Linked DNA regions of Homo sapiens. The protein of the gene in region 1 purifies or fractionates together with the protein of each later gene. This does not show direct contact. Each region holds a gene or a part of one and is shown on either strand. Other genes may lie near its edges.

Region 1 (7,023 bases):
GACTTGTATCCCAACACAATCCATCAGAGGAAGTCTCTACTCACTACCTTTTGTGAGGAGCCTCAGCCTTGTATATTACCCCGTAAACCAACCCAGAAACTAGGTGTGTTTATGTTGGAAAAGTAGACTAAGGAGATCAGTCTGTCCCAGAACGGTGCCAGCTGGGGAATTACTGCCCTTGCGTATCTAGACTGTGGCATCTTTAAACACTGGAAGGATCTGAGGAGCACTCCTTTAGGATTCCTACAGCACTTTAGGCCAGAAACCCATGGCAGCAAATGCCAGACGCAGCTGAAGCACAAGGCTGCCAGCATCTCGCAGCCTTCCCCGGGCAGAACTTTCTGTGTGGTACAATCCCTTAGTGAGCTGATCTTCAGCCTTCCCATGAGCGCAGAGTCAGCCTGCTGGGTGCACCAGTTGTATTAATTTGTATCTATGGGCCAAGTGTGGTAGCTCATGCCTGTAGTCCCAGCAGTATGGGAGGCAAGAGGGTTGCTTGAGCCCAGGAGTTTGAGACCAGCCTGAGCAATAAAGTGAGACCCAGCCTCTACAAAAAAAATCAAAAAAATTATCTGGGCGTGGTGGCACATGCCTGTAGTCCCAGCTACTCCTAAGGCTGAGATAGGGAAGATTGCCTGAGCCTGGGAGGTAGAGGCTGCAGTGAGCCATGATCACACCACTGCACTCCAGCCTGGGCGACAGAGTGAGACCCTGTCTCAAAAAAAAGCAAATTTGTACCCATGGGATTTTAATTTATAGCAGTGACTTAGTGATGACACAGAGAGGTTAATAACATTGAAAGAAGAATTCATTATTTACAATTCGTGAAAGAAGAGGGCATATGCTGGGCCTCATGGGGATACAGCTGGAAGCACAGGGGAGGAGAAAGCCTTTAACTGGGTGTGGTATTCTGATACATACTGGTTTTTGTCCACCGTTCCTGATTCATAACCCCTATAGCCCTTTTGTTAAAATGCTGGGTATGTTAGGCCTCAGGGTCAGGCCTCTGACCTCCTGCCCTCCTTTCGCTCTAACGTTCCTCCACCTTTCTGACTGTGGGTCTCATGAGTGGGTCCAACCCTATACCCTGGGAAAGGAATGTTGATGTTTTGAAGCTTCCATAAAGACTCCAAGAGGTCACAGTTGAGTGAGCTTCCAGGTGGTCCCCCCAGGAAGGGCATGGAAGCTCTGTGCCCCTTCCGCCACACCTTGCCCTAGGAGTCTCTTCATCTGTATCCTTTGCAATATTCTTTATAATACACTGGTAAACATGAGTGTTTCCTTGAGTTCCGTGAGCTGCTCCAGCAAATTAGTTGAACCCAAAGAGGGGGTCGCGGGAACCCCAACTCAAAGCCCATTAGTCAGACATTTTGGAGGCCTGGACTTGTGACTGGAGTGCAGGGTGGGGCAGTCTTGTGGACTCAGCCCTCAACCTGTGGGATCCGAAGCTATCCCTGCGTGGATAGTATGGGAACAGAATTAGAGGACACCCCCCACTGGTGTCTGCTGCTTGGAGTTTGGGGAAAACCCCCCACACATTTGGTCATAGAAGTCTTGTTCTGTATTGTCATGGTGTGAGAGTAGAGAAAAAACATGATTAGAGAGAGTTTTCCCTGCGTATTGGGTTTCTTCTGGAAAAGCAAGACAGGGCATGGTAAACAGTTTAGAGCTGGCTAGTTTGAGTAATTTCAGTGAGGTTTGGGGCATAGGGACTATCTCTAGTTGTCTGGCACTTGGCCCTGGGTTGATTTAGGGCAGGGGAAATACTGGCTTGGTATGTGAGAGTTTGTTAAAGAAGTGGTTGGGGGTATGGTTTGGGGTTAGGTGGATTGCACATGAAAGGCATGTGCTTGTTCCCAGGGGAGTTTATTATCCTAGAAATTACCTGTCCCTGAGAGGAGCAGTCTCTCCCAAAGTCTGAAAAGGCTTCAAGATGTTCTGAGCAACGTCAAGAAAATATGACTACTGTATTTTCATCTGACATGAACCTAAACTTACTCGGTTTAGAAGATAAACCTTCATCTATGAAGCTGTCCTTTGAGGGTTTTTTGTTGTTCTTGTTGTTGTTTTTTGTTTTTTAAAGTAGAAGTCCTCTTTTTATGAAATGTTGGTGAGAGTAGATACTATTTGATGTTTCTGTAAATGTCCTTATTTAACTCTATCACAGTAGAACGTTCAGTTTTTTAAATTTTTAATGGTTCATGAAATGCAGAGGTCTGGAATCACTGAACCTGCCCCTCCCCCTGGCTGCTGGTCCCTGAGGATGACCTCCAGCTCACATCTCTGCATCGTCATCACTACCCACCACCCACTCTGTGGTGCTAGTAATTTCCTCCTTAGTGTGGTGTTTGGAAGGGGAGCCCGAACCCTGGTGTCCAGCCCCAGCTCTGCTCTTTAAAAACTGTGTGGCCATGGCCAGGCGCGGTTGCTTACGCCTGTAATCCCAGCACTTTGGGAGGCCGAGGTGAGCAGATCATGAGGTCAGGAGATCGAGACCATCCTGGCTAACACAGTGAAACCCTGTCTCTACTGAAAATCCAAAAAAATTAGCCAGGTGTGGTGGCAGGCGCCTGTAGTCCCAGCTCCTCGGGAGGCTGAGGCAGGAGAATGGTGTGAACCCGGGCTGAGGCAGGAGAATGGCGTGAACCCGGGAGGCGGAGCTTGCAGTGAGCCGAGTTCACACGCCACTGCACTCCAGCCTGGGCGACAGAGCGAGACTCCGTCTCAAAAAAAAAAAAAAAAAACTGTGTGGCCTTGGTCAAATGACTGACCTTGTCTGTTCCTCAGTGTTCTCATTGGTGAGATGAGGATTTACCACATCTGCATCCCAGGGTTGTTACTGGGGTAAAGGGTTATTGATAGGGTTTGGCTCTGTGTCCCCACCCATATCTCACCTTGAATTGTAATAATCCCCATGTGTCGTGGGAGGTAATTGAATCATGGGGACGGGTTTTTCCCATGGTGTTGTCGTGATAGCACATAAGTCTCATGAGATCCGATGGTTTTATAAAGGGGGGTTCCCCTACGCATGCCCTCTTGCCTGCTGCCATGTAAGATGTGCCTTTCTCCGCCTTGTGTCATGATTGTGAGGCCTCCCTAGCCATGTGAAACTGAGTCCCTTAAACCTCTTTCTCTTTATAAATTACCCAGTCTCGGATATGTCTTTATTAGCAGCGTGAGAACAGACTAATAAAGTTATTACGTGAAAAGGGCTCAAAACAGCACCTGGGAGACCACGCTGTGTGCAGGGAGCCATTGCAATCCTGTTGCCATCAGTACTGTTATTGTCATCCTCATCAAGATCACTGTCGTTGGCATACCTGGACCCGGGACTTTCTGGGTAGCGTTGTGGAGCTTTGTGGTTAAACAGCACCGACAGCAGAGATGGCAGGACCTGGGCCTTACTGACTCAGCCATTCACCAGTTCTGTGCTCTTCAGCAAATCACTTTACTTCCTGATCCTGGGTTTCTTTGTCAATAAAATGGTGTTGATCACGATGTGGACTTCCTGGGGATGCTGTGAGAAAATCCTCAGCTGGAATCCTCATTTTTTCTTTAGTCTAGAGGAAGAGCATTATAAAACATTGCTTAGGATGTAAAAAAAATAAGACTTAGATCAATGAAATCACATACCTTGTTTGGAATGAAAAGAGTCAATATTTAATATTTAAATACATCAGTTTTTCTCTAAGATACTCTATCAGTATTCACTTTTGGAATTACATAATGCATTTATGTAATTATGGAAACCTTGGTTTCCAGGTCACATGCCAGCTTTTCATTCCCATGCACAGGAGCAGCTTCACTCCAAGGTCTGGTCTCCATCCTGAAGTCCCAAACTAGATTGAAGGTCTTTATTTCTTTTCACCCACATCCATGTGTCCACTTGCTTTCTCCATAAACAGGGTGTCCTGTTCCCAAAGCTGAGCTGATCTGCCACCTAGAGCATGGGCAGGAGCCATGGACCAGGAAGGAAGACCTCTCCCAAGACACCTGTCCAGGTAGGAGCCAAGATCTGGGCAGGTTGGAGTCCCTTCTGGCTTAAGACTGGATGGAGACCACTGGCCCTGGAATCTCTTGGGAAGCTTCTCATTGTGGCCTCTCTCTATATAACTCTTATATAACTCTATCACACTAGAATGTTCCATTTGAGAGCCATGGAGCCCTTTGACCTGTGTTTTCTCTGTCCTCCTAGCCCCATCACAGTGTCACCATGCCTGGGAAGAAGTGAGATTTAAGAACTAAGATGTGTTCAGGGGTTCCAACTGTGTGGGCCTGAAATGTGGCTTGCCAGTCACCTGCTGTGTGGCCCTGATGAAGTTGCAGGATCTCCTGTCTTTGTATATAACTTCAGCTAAGTTAACAGTAGCTGCTGTATCAGACAGATTCTAAAATCTCAGTGGTTCACATATGAAAACTCTTTCCCACTCATACCAGGGACTGTGTGGGTCAGCGAGGAGCTCTGTACGACACAGTTATTCAGGACCCAGGTTCCTTCTGTCATCAGCCTGTTGCATTAAGATTATCCTAACGTCCTCGAGCTGGCAGAGAATTGAGGGAATAAGGGAAGTTAAACCCACTTCCAGAAATACCAACTCCCCTCACATTCCACCCACAGGAACTAGGCATTTGGCTTGGGTCCATGGGACTGGGAAATGTGGCTGAGCTGCTTGTCCAAGGAGAAGAGCAGAAGGTTTGGTGAGCACCTACTCTCAGTCCACTACATTGAGTCTGTTCCTGAAAAGTGTTATTAGAAATCTTTTTTTTTTTGAGACGGAGTCTCGCTCTGTCACCCAGGCTGGAGTGCAGTGGCACAGTCTCGGCTCACTGCAAGCTCCGCCTCCCGGGTTCACGCCATTCTCCTGCCTCAGCCTCCCGAGTAGCTGGGACTACAGGCGCCCGCCACCACGCCCAGCTAATTTTTTTTTTTTTGTATTTTTAGTAGAGACGGGGTTTCACCGTGGTCTCGATCTCCTGACCTCGTGATCCACCCGCCTCGGCCTCCCAAAGTGCTGGGATTACAAGCGTGAGTCACCGCGCCTGGCCTAGAAATCATTTTTATGTCATTGGGCAGTTTAAAGATGTTATGTGATACATTAATGCATAAAACTGGATAGTTTCTGAGCCATAGTAAGTGACTCATCCGAATGTCATTATTAACCTTAAAGAGTGATGCTATGTTACATTTCCTTCTGAACTCTAGGGAATAGGGCCTTTCTTACTCTCCCAATTTCTCTTTCCACTTATATTCTGCCTATCAGCCTCTCCCACCTTCTCCTTCCACCCATTCCCTGAGTGTCAATCAGACACTAAGAAGCAGTAGTTTGCCCATGTCTTCCTATATCTCCTGTTTTCCAAAAACCTCAGGGTGACATTTGACCTTCTGTGTCCCACACTCAGGCTGCTGAGGGCACTGAGGCCATCTGTCATGTGTGTGGATTGGTGCCACTGCAGAGCCTTGGCCTCTGCCCGCGTGGGTTCCTTGAGCTGCTCATCCAACCCTGAGTGTCTGTGCAGTCCCTGTTCAGCCCTTCAGAGTCTGTTCCAGATTGTCCCCTCCTCAGTGCCACATCTGCACTTGAAAATCTCAAAAGCACAAAACTCAACATGCCTAACAAGGAACCCATGATCTTGCTCACTCCTGCCACCTCCCAAGTTTCTGTGAATGGTTCTGCCATCCAGGCAGATTAGGGGACTGGCCCCAACCTCAGACAAGTCAACCCCTCCACCTCCATGAGTCCCTGCATCCAGCCAAGTAGACAGTTTTTGTCTCCAGGCACAGATGTCTCAGCATGTGAGTGCTGATGTGTTAGCAGGCTTTCAGGTTGAAAAGAAAGTCTCCTGTCTTGTATTGCTTGATCAGCAGCCCTTACATGTTCATCTCAACTTCTCTTTTCCTTACTGGAAGAGGTCTTGCCCCAGTCATGGCCAATTCCTATACCAGGGTCTAGAACACACTTCCTTTCATGGACATCCTTTCTTCATTTATATTCTGCTTGTTTTGTGATTCTCTACTCAACCTAAAAATATGCTTGTTTCTTCTTTTTTCTTTTCTTTTTTTTTTTTTTTTTTTTTAGAGTCTCTCTGTGTAGCCCAGGCTGGAGTGCAGTGGTGCTATCTTGGCTCACTGCAGTCTCTGTGCCTCAGCCTCCCAAGTAGCTGGGATTACAGGTGCATGCCATTACACCCGGCTAATTTTTGTGGGTTTTTTTGTTTGCTCGCTTGTTTGTTTTTTGTTTTGTTTTGTTTTTTGAGATGGAGTTTTGCTGTTGTTGCCCAGGCGGGAGTACAATGGCGCAATCTCGGCTTACTGCAACCTCCGCCTCCCAGGTTCAAGCGATTCTCCTGCCTCAGCCTCCCGAATAGCTGGGATTATAGGTGCATGCCACCACGCCCGGCTTTTTTTGTATTTTTAATAAAAATGGGGTTTCACCATGTTGGCCAGGCTGGTCTCGAACTCCTGACCTCAGGTGATCCACCCGCCTTGGCCTTCCAAAGTGCTGGGATTACAGGTGTGAGCCACTGCGCCTGGCCATATTTTTAGTAGAGACAGGGTTTCACTGTTGTTGCCCAGGCTGGTCTGAAACCCCTGGCCTCAAGCAGTCCATCTGCTTCGGCCTCCCAAAGTGCAGGGATTACAGGCGTAAGCCACTATGCCCAGCCTCGAGTTTCTTACAATTGAAGAAAATAAAACAAATGCTTGTGGCTCATGATATATTTATATATTCATTGATACATTCATTTACTATGTGGGCATTTAATTGTCTAGATTTGGCTGGCACAGTGGCTCACACCATAATCCCAGCACTTTGGGATGCTGAGGTGGGAGGATTACTTGAGCTCAGGAGTTTGAGACCGGCCTGGGAAACATGGTGAGACCCCGTCTCTGCAAAATTAAAAAAATTAGCTGGGCATGGTGGCTCATGCCTGTGGTCCCAGCTATTCAGGAGGCTGAGGTGGGAGGATCTCTTGAGCCCAGGAGGTCGAGGCTGAAGTGATCTTATTCATGCCACTGCACTCCAG
Region 2 (7,967 bases), on another chromosome or scaffold:
TCACCTGAGGTCGGGAGTTCAAGACCAGCCTGACCAACATGGAGAAACCCTGTCTCTACTAAAAATACAAAATTAGCCGGGCGTGGTGGCACATGCCTGTAATCCCAGCTATTCTGGAGGCTGAGACAGGAGAATCATTTGAACCCAGGAGGCGGAGGCTGCAGTGAGCCGAGATCATGCCACTGCACTCTAGCATGGGCAACAAAAGTGAGACTCAGTCTCAAGAAAAAAAAAAAGGATGTGGCGGGGGTGGGGGGTGTCTCATTATGTTGCCCAGGCTGGCATCGAAATCCTGGACTCAAGCACTCCTCCCACCTTGGCCTGCCAATGGGATTAATTACAAGCTTGAGCCACTGCACCCAGCCCAAACCTACACACTATCTTGCCATTGGATTTCCTACTCTGTGGAAAACATGCAGCTTTGTTTTTGTTTTTTGTCCTTTTTTTCCTCCTTTTTGTGGGAATGGGGTCTCGCCATATTGCCCAGGCAGGTCTCGTACTCCTGGGTTCAAGCTATTCCCCTGTCTCTGTCGCCCTAAGGACTGGGATTACAGGCGTGAGCCACTGCGCCTGGCAACTTGCTGCTTTGTATAATCTCAGTAGAAGGGCCGGGCGCAGTGGCTCAAGCTGTAATCCCAGCACTTTGGGAGGCCGAGGCGGGCGGATCACAAGGTCAGGAGATCGAGACCATCCTGGCTAACACGGTGAAACCCCGTCTCTACTAAAAATACAAGAAGTTAGCCAGGCGTGGTGGTGGGCGCCTGTAGTCCCAGCTACTTGGGAGGCTGAGGCAGGAGAACAGCATGAACCTGGGAGGCAGAGCTTGCAGTGAGCCGAGATTGCACCACTGCACTCCAGCCTGGGTGACAGAGTGAGACCCCATCTCAAAAAAAAAATAAAAAAATAAAAAATAATCTCAGTAGAATATGAGGAAAAAAGGATAGCCAGAAGCCCTCCAAAACTGATTCATGAAATAAAACACATAATTGATTTTTTTTTCTTAAACACAGAGTATCAAAAGACACAGGACAGGGTGCCCAGATCGACTGTTCTGTGCTCCAAATAATAACAATGATAATTTCATTTTTTAAATTTATTGTTATTTATTTTTTATTTTTGTCTGAGATGGAGTCTTGCTCTGTTGCCTAGGCTGGAATGCAATGGCGCAATCTGGGCTCACTGCAACCTCTGCCTCCCATGTTTAAACGATTCTCCCGCCTCAGCCTCCCGAGTAGCTGGGATTACGGGCATCTGCCACCAAGCCCGGCTAATTTTGTATTTTTACTAGAGATGGAGTTTCATCATGTTGGCCAGGCTGGTTTTGAACTCCTGACCTCAGGTGATCCACCCACCTCAGCCTCCCGAAGTGCAGGGATTACAGGCATGAGCCACTGCGCCCAGCCGATTTTATTTATTTATTTTTTTTGAGACACAGTTTCCTTTTTGTCACCCAAGCTGGAGTGCAATGGCACAATCTCGGCTCACTGCAATCTCCACCTCCCAGGTTCAAGTTATTCTCTTGCTTTAGCCTCCCAAGTAGCTGGGATTACAGGCGCCTGCCACCCCGCTTGGCTAATTTTTGTATTTTTAGTAGAGAGAGAGTTTCATCATGTTGGTCAGGCTGGTCTCGAACTCCTGACCTCAAGTGATCCATCCACCTCGGCCTCCCACAGTGCCGGGATTACAGGAGTGAGCCACCACGCCTGGCCAATAACAATAATTTTAAAAGCAAAACCGCTCTGTAGGTTATTTGCCCACAAGCAGCACTTGGCTCCTGGCCTTAAAAATGCCAGGAGAAGACTGACAATCAGGCCACCGCTTTGTGCCCATGACAGAAACGGCAAAGCCTATTTTTTTTTTTTTTTTTTTTTTTGAGACGGAGTCTCACTCTGTCGCCCAGGCTGGAGTGCAGTGGCGGGATCTCGGCTCACTGCAAGCTCCGCCTCCCGGGTTCACGCCATTCTCCTGCCTCAGCCTCCCAAGTAGCTGGGACTACAGGCGCCCGCCACTACGCCCGGCTAATTTTTTGTATTTTTAGTAGAGACGGGGTTTCACCGTTTTAGCCGGGATGGTCTCGATCTCCTGACCTCGTGATCCGCCCGCCTCGGCCTCCCAAAGTGCTGGGATTACAGGCGTGAGCCACCGCGCCCGGCCCTATTTTTTTATTTTTATTTATTTTTTAAGAAAGAGAGTCTCACTCTGTCGCCAGGCTGGAGTGCAGTGGCGTCATCTCGGCTCACTGCAACTTCCGCCTCCTGCGTTCAAGGAATTCTCCTGCCTCAGCCTCCCGAGCAGCTGGGACTACAGGCGCACACCACCATGCCCAGCTAATTTTTGTGTTTTTAGTAGAAACGGGGTTTCTCCATGTTGGTCAGGCTGGTCTCAAACCCCGACTTCAGGTGATTCACTTGCCTTGGCCTCCCAAAATGTTGGGATTACGGTGTGAGCCACTGCACCCAGCCACTTTTATTTACTTATTTTTACTTTTTGCAACAAAGTCTCGCTTTGTCACCGGGGCTGGAGTGCAATGGCGCAATCTAAATTTACTGCAACCTCTGCCTCCTGGGTTCAAGCAAATCTGGCTCAGCCTCCCAAGTAGCTGGGATTACAGGGATGCGCCACCATGCCCAGGTAATTTTTTTGTGTATTTTTAGTAGAGATTGGGTTTCACTATGTTGGCCAGGCTGGTCTTGAACTCCTGACTTCAGGCGATCCACCCATCTCGGCCTCCCATAGTGCTGGGATTACAGGCATGAGCCACCGTGCCTGGCCTCATGTGTTACGTTTTAAATTAATTGGTTTAATAATAAGAGCTTAAATAAAATATTTTGTCAGAAAAGTGAAAAACATAATGCCTTTTATTTAGTTCATGTGACTTGGGTAATCTTTGGGAAATAAAGATGGGTTTAAAGATTATTGATAAAATACAAATGTCTTCAAAATGTAAACATGTGGTCAAAATTATGTTCAAATATTAGGTTTGCTAAATGCTTTAAGGTCATAAACTGCTTCCTTGGCTTTTGAAAATTGTTTAACTTGCCTGTTTTCTAGCTCGGTAAGGCCTGGGACATATGCAGTTGGCCACACCTCTAGATATGCTGGAAATAGTCAAACCTTATGAGAACATAACTTACCAGGTTCTATATTAAAGTTAAAATTGCTGAAATTCACACTTCAGCTGTAATAGGAAATATCCTCTCCATTGGGCAAAAGCCGAGGAAATGACTGTAACTTTCCTTCATCCTCGTCATTTACATAGGGCATACCCCAAGTAGAGGGTATTTAAACTCCCAAAAATTCTGTAACGGGGTCTTTGAGCCCCAGTGCTCGGGCCCACTCCCACATTGTGGCATTGTGGAGTGTACTTTCATTTTCAATAAATCCCTTCATTCCTTCCTTGTTTGTGCGTTTTGTCCAATTCTTTGTTCAAGACACCAAGAACATGAACACCCTCCACCGTTAACAAAAGCATATTGGCGGGGGCACGGTGGCTCACGCCTGTAATCCCAACATTTTGAGACGCCGAGGCGTGCGGATCACCAGGTCAGGAGATCTAGACCATCCTGGCCAACATGGTGAAACGCTGTCTCTACTAAAAATACAAAAATTAGCCGGGTGTGGTGGCGCGCGCCTGGAGTCCCAGCTGCTTGGGAGGCTGAGGCAGGAGAATCACTTGAACCCAGGAGGCGGAGGTTGCTGTGAGCTGAGATCGCGTCACTGCACTCCAGCCTGGGCAACAGAGCGAGACTCCGTCTAAAAAAAAAAAAAAAAAAAAAGCATATTGATTGGACTTGCAGTAAGAAAACTCAATTTTGACTCCCAGGTTGGCCACTCATCAGCTGGCCAAAAAACGTGTTGTCTATTCAACCTGTCAGTTCTTCAGTTTCCCTGTGAGAAAAATGGGGATGATACCTACAGCACAGGATTTTTTTTCTTCTTGTAGTAAGTGGATTAAATAAAAGAATAAATAAATGAAAGAAAAGCATTAGGCAAAGTACTTAAAAATAATTTTAACATCTGAATCCAATCCACTTATCAAGGACTTACTATGTAAAAAGCATTGTGATGTGTTTTACATACATTATTTAATCCTTACATTAAGTCTGTGAGATAAAGCATTCTCATTCTATTTTACTGATGAGGAAGTTGAGCTTCAGAGACATCAAGAATCTTGCTCCAGGTTCTCAAACACTAGATGGCTGAGCGGGCATTCTAATTCAGGATTCAAACTCCAAGGCTCATGCTCTTGAGAACTTTCCTTTTCCAAGGTATTGCTTTCTCTTAAATTAGCTAATGTGTACTAACTTGTGGAGTTTCTTTCCTGGAGAAAGTTAGAAGGGTCTCTCGGGGTTTCTTTCTTGGAGCAGGTTATAAGGGTCTTCTCGAGTACTTTTTAAGTAACAAGAAAGCTAAATAGATTTTTTGGTAGATACTTGCCAATATTTTGTATTCGTTTTATATTTGATTTATCCAGATACTCTAAGGAGTTGAAACAGAGAGGACCGTTAGAGAGGTGCTGTTGCCAGATTTTCAGGGGCAAAGTCTTTGAAATATATATTTTAATGTATGAAAGCTTTAAAAAATATATACATATATAGAAATAATGAATATGTGTGTGTGTGTGTGTGTGTGTGTGTGTGTGTGTGTGTGTACATGTATATATATATACAGTATTCCCCAAACCTACACAGCCGGTCCTCGGGGAATATCCTCTCAAGCCCTGAGGTGCAGGGCTGGGAAGGAGTGGGTGAGCGGCTGGGTCGTGGCAGGTTGGTCTGGGGAGGCTGGGGAGGCTGGGGAGGCGGGAGGAGAACGGTTGGCCCCGGCAGCGGCGTGTCGGAGGGCGGATGGGGCTAGGAGGCCGCCCGGGGGGTGGGGTCTGCGGCGGGCCGGCCCCCGCGTGCGCGTCGCCTCGCCGGGCATTTCAAAAGCTCGCCGGCAGGGCGCGGCGCTAGCTCCGTGTGCCTCGCAGGCGTGGTGGGCGCGTCCTGGCAGCCGCCCGCTTGGTTCTCGCGGGATCCGGGCTCCGGCTCGACGCCGGCTCTCTTTTTGACGCCCCGCCGCCGGGGTTGCCATGGTTCATTTCTTGCACCCGGGCCACACGCCCCGGAACATCGTCCCTCCTGACGCTCAGAAGGATGCCCTGGGCTGCTGCGTGGTACAGGTGAGCACCGGGGTGCGGGCGGCGACGCGGACCTCGGCGCCACGTCCAGCTCCGGCGAGCGCGGCGAGTCTCCTGGGACGCTGCCGAGGCACTTGCTGGGGAGTGTGGCCCGCGCGGGGCTGCGGTCTAGATGCCGAGCCCCTTCCAGGCGCAGGCGTCGCTGCGGAGGTGCGTTGTCGGGGGAGGCGGCCTGGGCGCCGCGGAGCGGGGGGTGCTTTTCTGCGCCCGGCGAAGCGCGTGGAACTTGCGCCCTGAGGCAGCGCGGCGAGAGCCCAGTCCCAGAGACCGGGGCGAGCCTCCTCAGGATTCCTCGCCCCAGTGCGGGCTGCTGTGAGCTTAGACGTAGGTGCAGGGCATGGCACTCGGCTTGGCCCGTAGTGGACGGTGTTTTTGCAGTCATGAACCCAAACGCCGCAAACCTTGACCGTTTCCCCACCCGTGTTGTGGACGCAGCGCCCCGCGGAGGCGGTGACCCTTTGGCCGTTACCACCTGAGGCCTTTGGGCCCGGGGCCGGGCGAGTAGCTTAGTCCGGCTGGGGGAACTGGAACCCGAAGTCTGAGATTCTTTCAGTTCCGCGCGTCCGCCCCCGTCCCCGTCCCGTCCCCAGCCTTTGCCGAATGCCTGTTACTCTTAGCTCTGGACAAAATGCAAACCCAAAGAATGTGTGTTTAGCGCCTGCTGTGTGTTAAGTGTCGCCTTTCTTTTCTTTCTTTCTTTTTTTTTTTTTTTTTGAGACGGAGTCTCGCTCTGTCACCAGGCTGGAGTGCAGTGGCGCGATCTGGGCCCACTGCAACCTCCGCCTCCGGGGTTCAAGCGATTCTTCTGCCTCAGCCTCCCGAGTAGGTGGGACTACAGGCGCGTGCCACCATGCCCGACTCATTTTTTGTATTTTTAGTAGAGACGGGGTTTCACCATGTTGGCCAGGATGGTTTCGAACTCCAGACCTCGTGATCTACCCGCCTCGGCCTCCCAGAGTGCTGGGATTACAGGCGTCAGCCACCGTGCCCGGCCAAGTGTCGCCTTTCTAAAGCAGTCTGGTAACCCCTAGTCTTTTGTAGGCTTTGCTAGGCTCCATTTTACCGATGTAGGGAAGTTGGGAGCTCTGAAATTTAGTTGACTTGCTCGTGAACTTGAATTTCACCTCAGGTGTTCAGACCTCTGGCCCCACTTTGGAAAAAACCCGCCAAGGGCCACCCTTGGGGAACTCGAGGGATTGAGTGGTGAAGGCTCGACCCAAAATTTATGGAGAGAAGGAAATGTTCTGATTAAGGTTGTGCTTTACATATTAACGCCTTGTTGGAAGACTTTGTGCCCTGCAGTGATCTAGCCTGTAATCTTTTGAACTCATTTAGAAAAGTTATATAATTTGTGGATTTGTAATTAATGGAAAACTTGGATTTTTTACGTGTGTGCTAGCATCGTCTCAAGCACATTTTTTCCTGCTTGGAATCGAAACAAGATTTCTTTACAAAAGTACTCACACCCATTTTCTCTGTCTAGTTCTGGGTATATCTCATTTTCTTTGTTAAGGATTTTATTTATTTTTAATTAATTATTTTAATTACACAAATATTGCATGAATACTTTTTTCCCTATGAAACATACATACAATTATTTCCATTTATGTCATTTTAATCTTCTCTTAGCAATGTTTTGTAGTTTTTAATATAAAAGTCTTTTCACATTTTGTTAAATTTGTTCCTGTTCTTGATACTATTGTAAATACTTTTTTTTTTTGAGACGGAGTCTCCCAAAGTGCTGGGATTACAGGCATGAGCCACCGTGCCCGGCCAGCAAATATTTTTTAAAACTTTATATTACCTTGTGTATATATAAGAATACATAAAATTGATTTTTGTATATTGATCTTGTATCCTACAGCCTGGCCAAAGTCACTTAGTTTTCTTTATTTTTTTGTAAATTTTTAAAGATTTTCTACACAGTCATATTATTTTCTTTTTATCCTTTTAATTTTTTATTTTTAATTAAGACGGTGGTTTCCCTATTGTCCAGGCTGGTCTTTGAACTCCGGCTCAAGCAATCCTCTTGCCTTGGCCTCCCATATCTTTTCAATTTTTTGCTTCATGAATTTTGAAGCTATTAGTAAGTTCGTATGCATTTAGGAATGTTAATTCTGCTTGATGAATTGGCCCTTTTATCATTAAGAAATGTCCATCTTGATCTCTAGCAATATTCTTGTCCAGAAGCCTCATTTTTTCTGACAGTGTAGTCACTCCAGTTTCCTTGTGTCTAGTGTTTAACAACTGTATGTTTTAAATTGTGTCTCTTGTAAACAGCAATCTTGCATTTGTATGTAGCCTAATGGTCTGTGCTTTTTTTTTTTTTTTTGAGACGGAGCCTTGCTCTGTCACTCAGGCTGGAGTACAGTGGTACAATCTTGACTCACTGCAACCTCCGCCTCCCGGGTTCAAGCGATTCTCTCGCCTCAGCCTCCTGAGTAGCTGGGACTACAAGTGTGTGCCACCATTTCCTGGCTAATTTTTGTATTTTTGTAGAGACAGGTATTTTTGTAGAGGCGGGGTTTCACCATGTTGCCCAGGCTGGTCCTGAACTCCTGGCCTCAAGCGACCTGCCCATCTTGACCACCCAAAGTGCTGGGATTACAGGCGTGAACCACTGCACCCAGCCTTTATTTTTGAATTTTTTTTTTTTTTTTTTTACAGAGGACAGGAAAGTAAACATTTTAATTTTTTTAATTAAAAATGTATTTTTTAAATTGATTTTTGCAGGGAGGAGAGAGTCTCACTCTGTTGCCCAGGTTTGAGTGCAGTCTGTGATCAT
Region 3 (7,023 bases), on another chromosome or scaffold:
TGACAATTTTTTATCAGGATTGTTTTTGAATAAGTAGTGAACTGAAGTCTGTACCTCCATCCTAGAGACTCGTGCAAAGAAGTCTTAATTCTTCTTTCTCATGAAAACTCATCAGTGGAGAACACTTGTCAGAGTGGTCTGCATGTCTTCTCACCACCTCCCCCATCCTTGTATCTTTTCACCTCTAGGAAAATATCCCTGGATCCTTTATCCATTCCTCTTGACCATCCTGGTTGCTCTCATGGGAACATTATCCAGTTTCTCTACCTATATCTCAAAGTGTGGTTGTTTATGTTAGGAGGAAGGAGAAGAGGGAGGGGGTCGAGGTCAAGAGGTGACCCATGACCACATGCCTGGGTCTGAAGTGGGGCGTATGAAGCTTCCTTGCTCAGGTCACAATGCTCATATCACCTTTAACATAACTTTGTTACTTGTGTGTACACTCTCTTTATTTCCTCAGGGCTTAGTTTCAGGAAGGGACTATTATCATCCTTGCTTTAAAATTAAACTATAAACAAAATTCCTTCCATAGTTAGCTTGGCCTACGTGCAGAGATAGGCAGAGGCCGTTAACCTACAAGATGTCACCATGGGCAGGGGGCAGGGTGCGGGGAGCAGAATGGAGCCACTCATGTTCAGCCTCCTTTTGTCTGTTATAATTTCCCCATTTTCAAAGCCAGTGATGTTGCATGTCTCTCACCTGTCTTCTGTATTCTCTCTGTCTCTCACCACAACCAGAAAAGGGTCTCTGCTTTTAAGGACCCATGTCATTAGACAGAGCCCACCTGGATAATCCAGGCTGAACTCTCCTACCTATGGGTCCTTAATCTAATCACACCTGCAAAGTTGCTTTGTTACATAAGGTAACATATTACAGGTTCCAGGGATTAGGATGTGGACGTCTTTGACTTGGAGGAGCAAGATTGATTTTAGACCCTCATCACTGGTGGGATTGGATTTCTGATGTAGCCCTTCCTTGTCCAGGACTGGGCAGGCAGGTGTGAATCTGTATAAGGAAGGCCTCAAGTTACTGTTCCTGGGCTCAACCAGCTACATAGCAGATTTGTACCACCCAGGTACACAGCCTGCATAGCAGATTTGCTGTCTACAGCCATTCTCACCTTTTCTCTTTTCAGGAGCATTTGCAATTATACGGTCATTGCTTTCTTTTTGGAGCCTCCCGTGCAGTTTTAATCTACTTTCAGAACTGGAGAGCACATCACATTTTGGTCAATAGCCTAGACATACAGTTGCATAACCCTTAACTTACCAGTGCTCATTATTTGCATTATTTCATTTTCTGTTCAAGTACTTTGAAAAGCCAAACAACTTTAAATACTACATAAAGTATGCATGCCTCTTAATATTGTTGGGATTCATCTCATTGTTATTTCTGTTACTCAAACCAGAAATCAGCTCCTCTTTCTAGATTGCAAACTAATAATAGTAGCAGAATAATTAATAGTACTATAGAGTAATAGCTACAGTTTGTTGATGCCGGCCAGGAGCCAGGCAGTGTTCCAGGTGTGTGATCTCATTAGATCCTTGCAGACATGATAGTGATGGAATTGTTACTTCCATTTTTTATAGGGCAACTGAACTCAGGTGATATTAAGCTGTTTGCTCAAGCTCATGCAGATCTAGGATTTAAACTCTAGTTTGTTTGACTCCAAAGTGCTCACTCTTCCCGAATGCAGATTCCAGTTGTTAATGTTAGATGAGATGGCACCTTAGTGCCGGTATAGATTCCACCACTGGTCATTCCAGAGGTGTGTTTTGAAGCAGAAGCCAATTAGTACTTTGCCTAAATGGGAATAAACTTGGGCCCAGCCTTTAGTACCATACGGCCCCTCCCCGTGGACTTAAGAAGCCTCTCTGTGTTTCAGCCACACACAGCACCTTGACTTGCATGAGCAGGGAGTTCCAGTGCGAGGACGGGGAGGCCTGCATTGTGCTCTCGGAGCGCTGCGACGGCTTCCTGGACTGCTCGGACGAGAGCGATGAAAAGGCCTGCAGTGGTGAGTGCCGGTCCACGGGCTGGGCTGGGCTGGGCTGGGCTGGGAGGCTCGCTTACCCCAGGGCCCCTCCTGTGTAGACCTTGAGCTAGGACCCTTTTGAACTGTTGCTCAATCTAAGGATAAAACAGATTTGTGCCTAGTTTTGGAGCCCCAAGTGAGGTGAGCCTTGGCCAGACTCTGATACAACATGCAGCTGTCTCCTCCCTGTTAGTGAAATGCTAGTCTTGGATTTTTTTTTTTTTATGGACTTCCCACCTCATGCCCATACACCATGGCTCTCACAGTCTCAATCTGCTGGTGGGATTAACTCAGTTCTTATCTCTGGAGTGTCTAGTAATGGACCCTATGACATGGTCCTTGGACTTGTAGCATTCTCTATGGAGAAATAGGCTTAAATTGTCATAGGCAGGAGGAAGATGAAATTCGAGGGAAAATATCACGACCGGAAAAGTAGGAGACCCTAGGAGGGATTGTATAGGGAGGTTTCAACTACATTTTCTGAGATTTCTTTTCAGATAATGATTATGGCCTCCTGATAATCTAGATCATGGTAGTTCTGTTTAAAAGCAGGAGTCCTTTGAAATCTAAGGATTTGTAAGATGTAACTTTTTTTTTTTTGTATTTTTAGTAGAGACGGGGTTTAGCCACATTGCCCAGGCCAGTCTCGAACTCCTGAGCTCAGGCAATTTGCCCGCCTCGGCCTCCCAAAGTGCTAGGATTACAGGCGTGAGCCACCACGCCCAGCCAAGATGTAACTTTGTTTGTCTTTTTCTCCTTTATCTCTCTAGATGAGTTGACTGTGTACAAAGTACAGAATCTTCAGTGGACAGCTGACTTCTCTGGGGATGTGACTTTGACCTGGATGAGGCCCAAAAAAATGCCCTCTGCTTCTTGTGTATATAATGTCTACTACAGGTAGGTCCCATCTTTGTCATGGGAGATGAAAATGATGTCTTCATTGCCCCAGGATGTTCTGTAAACTCTCTAGTGGCATGCACCATGCTATTAACGGAGTCAGACATCTCAGCCCCCCATGCTGCTCCAGTGTGACAATATCTTTATTTTTTTTTGGGCCAGGGTGGTTGGAGAGAGCATATGGAAGACTCTGGAGACCCACAGCAATAAGACAAACACTGTATTAAAAGTCTTGAAACCAGATACCACGTATCAGGTTAAAGTACAGGTTCAGTGTCTCAGCAAGGCACACAACACCAATGACTTTGTGACCCTGAGGACCCCAGAGGGATGTAAGTGTTTCAGTTAATTTTTATGGCATGGGTAAGACCTCAGGTCGGGGTTTGTGAGGGTCTTTCTGAGTATTCTCAGGAATGTGGGAACATATGTGTGCCTCACATGTACAGAAGTATGGTGGCTAAGCTTTATAGTCTTGCCAGAGTTGTCAAACATCTGTTCTTCTTACTGCATCAGAGACTGTTCTTGTACCTTAAGTTAATTTAAGATTCTCTCCACCATTGCCCTCTTGCATTTTTTGTCTAGTTTCTACCTCTACGTTCCTCCTCTAGATATTTCCTAGTACTTGGTACTTAGGAGGAGGTCATCGTCATTAAAATATGAGGCATATCAGCAATTTTGTGGCTAAGTTTTTTTCTTTTTGGAGACAAGGTCTCACTCTGACACCCACACTGGAGTGCAGTGGAGGCGCAATCACTGCTCACCACCTCAGTCTTCCCAGGCTCAGGTGGTCCTCCCGCCTCAGCCTCTCGCATAGCTGAGACTATAGGTGTGTGCCACCATGCTCAGCTAGCTTTTTGTATTTTTGTACAGAAAGGGTTTTGCCGTGTTACCTAGGCTGGTCTTGAGCTACTGAGCTCAAGCAATCCACCTACTTCAGCCTCCCAAAATGTTGGGATTACAGGTGTGAGCCACTGCACCTGGCTTTGTGGCTAAGTTTTTAAGAAATTTACCAAATTTATGTGTCTAAGAGAGTTCCTCGCCTCCTCCCTACTTCAAAGTAGTTGACATGAGCAACTGTCTGCTTGAATGTCATCTTTTTTCATTGCCTAAAGTATCCTGAATATGCTAGCGCTAAACTCATTAAGGAGCCTGCTTTGAAGATGATCAAATTCATTTGGATATAGAAATTCTGTGATGTTACAAAATTAGTCTTATTTTTTGGTAGTCATGCCCACAGTACAGTTTTTGTTGTACAAGAAGCAGAGGCAGCAGGTGCTGTCATTGACAATTAAGATCTCAGCATGGAAGTCTCAGGGTCAGTGGTGACTCAGCCTGCCCAAGTGATTCTATCCTGCAGCCCTTATGAGCCACAAATTTACCACACACTCAACTGAGCCATGATGTGATGTGTGGACGGCACACCTTGCTTTTTGGAAGAAGAGGAAAAGTGTCTTTTCAATGTGACGACCAAGCTAGCAGCCTTTCTAGTGGATAGTCTCAATGCCGGCTGTGGAGTCGTTCTTGTCCTTGTTCTAAGCCCAGGAAAATTCCTCTGGTTGGCTGCTATGCAGATGGGTTTTAACCTTGAGTTGACTCTTTTTCTAGTGCCAGATGCCCCTCGAAATCTCCAGCTGTCACTCCCCAGGGAAGCAGAAGGTGTGATTGTAGGCCACTGGGCTCCTCCCATCCACACCCATGGCCTCATCCGTGAGTACATTGTAAGTACCTTCCATGAGTTGGCTGTATGTGTGTTGGGGGTGCTAGGAGATTTCTGGGTATTCTGTATGACGAGGGGGTTGATTTGGTTTAGCTTTGTAGGTGATGACCCATCCGTCAGAACATTTTGCTCCTCACCATCTTTTCTCTCCTCCAGCCTCCTTGCAAGATATTAGGATGCCCTGGACCTTTGGTTCCCTTTACTCACATTTTTTTTCTTCTCCCTTTAGGTAGAATACAGCAGGAGTGGTTCCAAGATGTGGGCCTCCCAGAGGGCTGCTAGTAACTTTACAGAAATCAAGAACTTATTGGTCAACACTCTATACACCGTCAGAGTGAGTGTCGTCATCCATTCCAGCCATCCATGCAGTCTTAGAACTGAGCGAAATTGCTGCTGTTTTGTGAGAACTCTCTACTCACCTTTGTGAGATGCATATTAGTAATCTGCAAAATACCCAACTTCTTGCCCTGGGACGGGGGAGCTCAGAGTTTCTTTCAGTCTCTTAAATGGACACCACAAAGAGCTTGACATCAGAGTTTCTGTAGATAACCGGGCGTTTATGGGAATGCCGCTTTCCCTGCTTTTAACTCCGGTATTCTGCTAGCTTTCCAGCTCCTATACTTTTGCAGTCAGCTCTTTCCTGCTTATCTTTAGCTGCAGGATGATGCAGAGCTATGATAAGTAGTCTTTCTAAACTGATTTTATGAGGTTCTTATGAAATATATTTTTAGTATTTTTAGCAGAAAGAGATAGATTTTGTGAACAACATGTTTGCTGAGACCATTAAGTGTGCACATTCATGACTCTCACACTGATAATTTTGTCAGTACCCTTTTTGTATATGTGTGTATTTATGAACACACCCCCCCATACACCTGCCCTTTAGAAGAACCTTGATATTTGTGGATCAATAGAAATTTTCTGATCTCAGGACTGTCATAATGCCCTTTACCCAAGCTCCTTCCCTTGGCTTTTTTGCCCTCTTATTTCAGATGCTGGGGCCTCTGAATATTCTGGATCACTCTGTATAAAATTTTTCCAGCCTCACTGCCAAAATCTCACCCCTTTAGCTCATTCAGTATTCTTACTGTATGGTGTATGGTGTATTGCCTTTATTTCATATTAATTCACCCTCTGATTTGAAAAGGTGGCTGCGGTGACTAGTCGTGGAATAGGAAACTGGAGCGATTCTAAATCCATTACCACCATAAAAGGAAAAGGTAAATGATCCCAGCATTTGCAGATTTAGAGAAAATATTATACAAACCCTTTCAAATGACTTTCAGTATGACCGGAAAATGGAGAAACGTAGTTTAGAAAAACATCACACAACTTTCTTCTCCCCAACACACGCACATTTTTGGGTGTCTCTGTAGTGCTTTAGATAGAGTCTTTTTGGGGTGACTGAGTGTCTTTTTCCTCCTAGTATTGAGCATTTCTTCTAATGCAGACATACAAAGGGATTTCCAAAGGCCATCATGCGCAGCCCTTTGTGAGTAGTCAAAATATCTAAAATAGAAGGAGTCCTTCCTTCTCACCAAAGCTGAAGATGATTTTGTGCATGTTCACTTACGGGGTTTTAAAGAAAGCACCATGCTGACTCTTGTTATTCTCCCAGTGGCACTGGCAAACTGTGTGTAGGTGGTTTTTTATCTTGTACTAGAGCTGATATTAGTAATAACTGATGGCTTGCCAAGGGCAGGACACTCTAGAGTGTTCACTGCTTTGCGTACATCAGCTCATCTAATTGAACAGTCAGAACAACTACAAGAAAGGATAAGGAACTGGAATGAGGTTATGTCACTTGTCCCAGGCCACACAATCAGTAAGTGACAGAGCTGGCCCTGGAACCTGATCTGCCTGACTCCAAAGCCTGTGCTCTTAACCACTGTGCTCCACGCTTCTCTCTGGGCTGAGACACATGCGGCCTACTGGACCGCCCTGCTTGCCGGGGGTGGCGGGCTCAGCATCTTGCACGAGTGCCTCATGAGGGCAGAGATCTGGTCTGTTTTTCTCTACTCTATCACGGGCATCTAGTAGAGACTAAGGAAATAATTGATGATTGAGTGAATCGAAGCAGTTAAATGAAGGGTTCTGGCATACTTTGGGAGATGGACTACAACTCATTTTCCAGAGTGGTTTTCCTGACCTTAGCCTTGACACTGGGGACTTGCATTTCTGGACTTCCAGGTATTAAAACCAGATGGACACTGTGGCATGCAATAGGACTGGAAGATTTTACTTTAACCTAAGCCTGTGAGGAATAGGCTCTGGGTCATGGAGAGTCACTATCTAGTCCCCTCTAAAATCTGGAGCCTTTGAGATCAGGGCCCAAGGCGGCCAAACGTAGTGCCACCAGATGGTCTTTGGAGCT

Evidence for each region.
Region 2: the proteins of ZNF264 (region 1) and ZYG11A purify together in Homo sapiens (affinity purification with mass spectrometry; 2 studies listed by BioGRID and IntAct, with this or other methods). This does not show direct contact.
Region 3: the proteins of ZNF264 (region 1) and SORL1 purify together in Homo sapiens (affinity purification with mass spectrometry; 2 studies listed by BioGRID and IntAct, with this or other methods). This does not show direct contact.

The regions. Positions count from the first base shown.
Region 1 is NC_000019.10:57,201,492-57,208,514, forward strand, and holds part of ZNF264 (zinc finger protein 264), read left to right. Parts: intron 1-3,905; coding exon 3,906-4,001; intron 4,002-7,023. UniProt on the Homo sapiens protein: May be involved in transcriptional regulation.
Region 2 is NC_000001.11:52,837,810-52,845,776, forward strand, and holds the start of ZYG11A (protein zyg-11 homolog A), read left to right. Parts: upstream 1-4,950; 5' UTR 4,951-5,074; coding exon 5,075-5,164; intron 5,165-7,967. UniProt on the Homo sapiens protein: Probably acts as a target recruitment subunit in an E3 ubiquitin ligase complex ZYGA-CUL2-elongin BC.
Region 3 is NC_000011.10:121,602,308-121,609,330, forward strand, and holds part of SORL1 (sortilin-related receptor preproprotein), read left to right. Parts: intron 1-1,885; coding exon 1,886-2,017; intron 2,018-2,805; coding exon 2,806-2,932; intron 2,933-3,094; coding exon 3,095-3,264; intron 3,265-4,537; coding exon 4,538-4,650; intron 4,651-4,878; coding exon 4,879-4,983; intron 4,984-5,796; coding exon 5,797-5,869; intron 5,870-7,023. UniProt on the Homo sapiens protein: Sorting receptor that directs several proteins to their correct location within the cell. Along with AP-1 complex, involved Golgi apparatus - endosome sorting.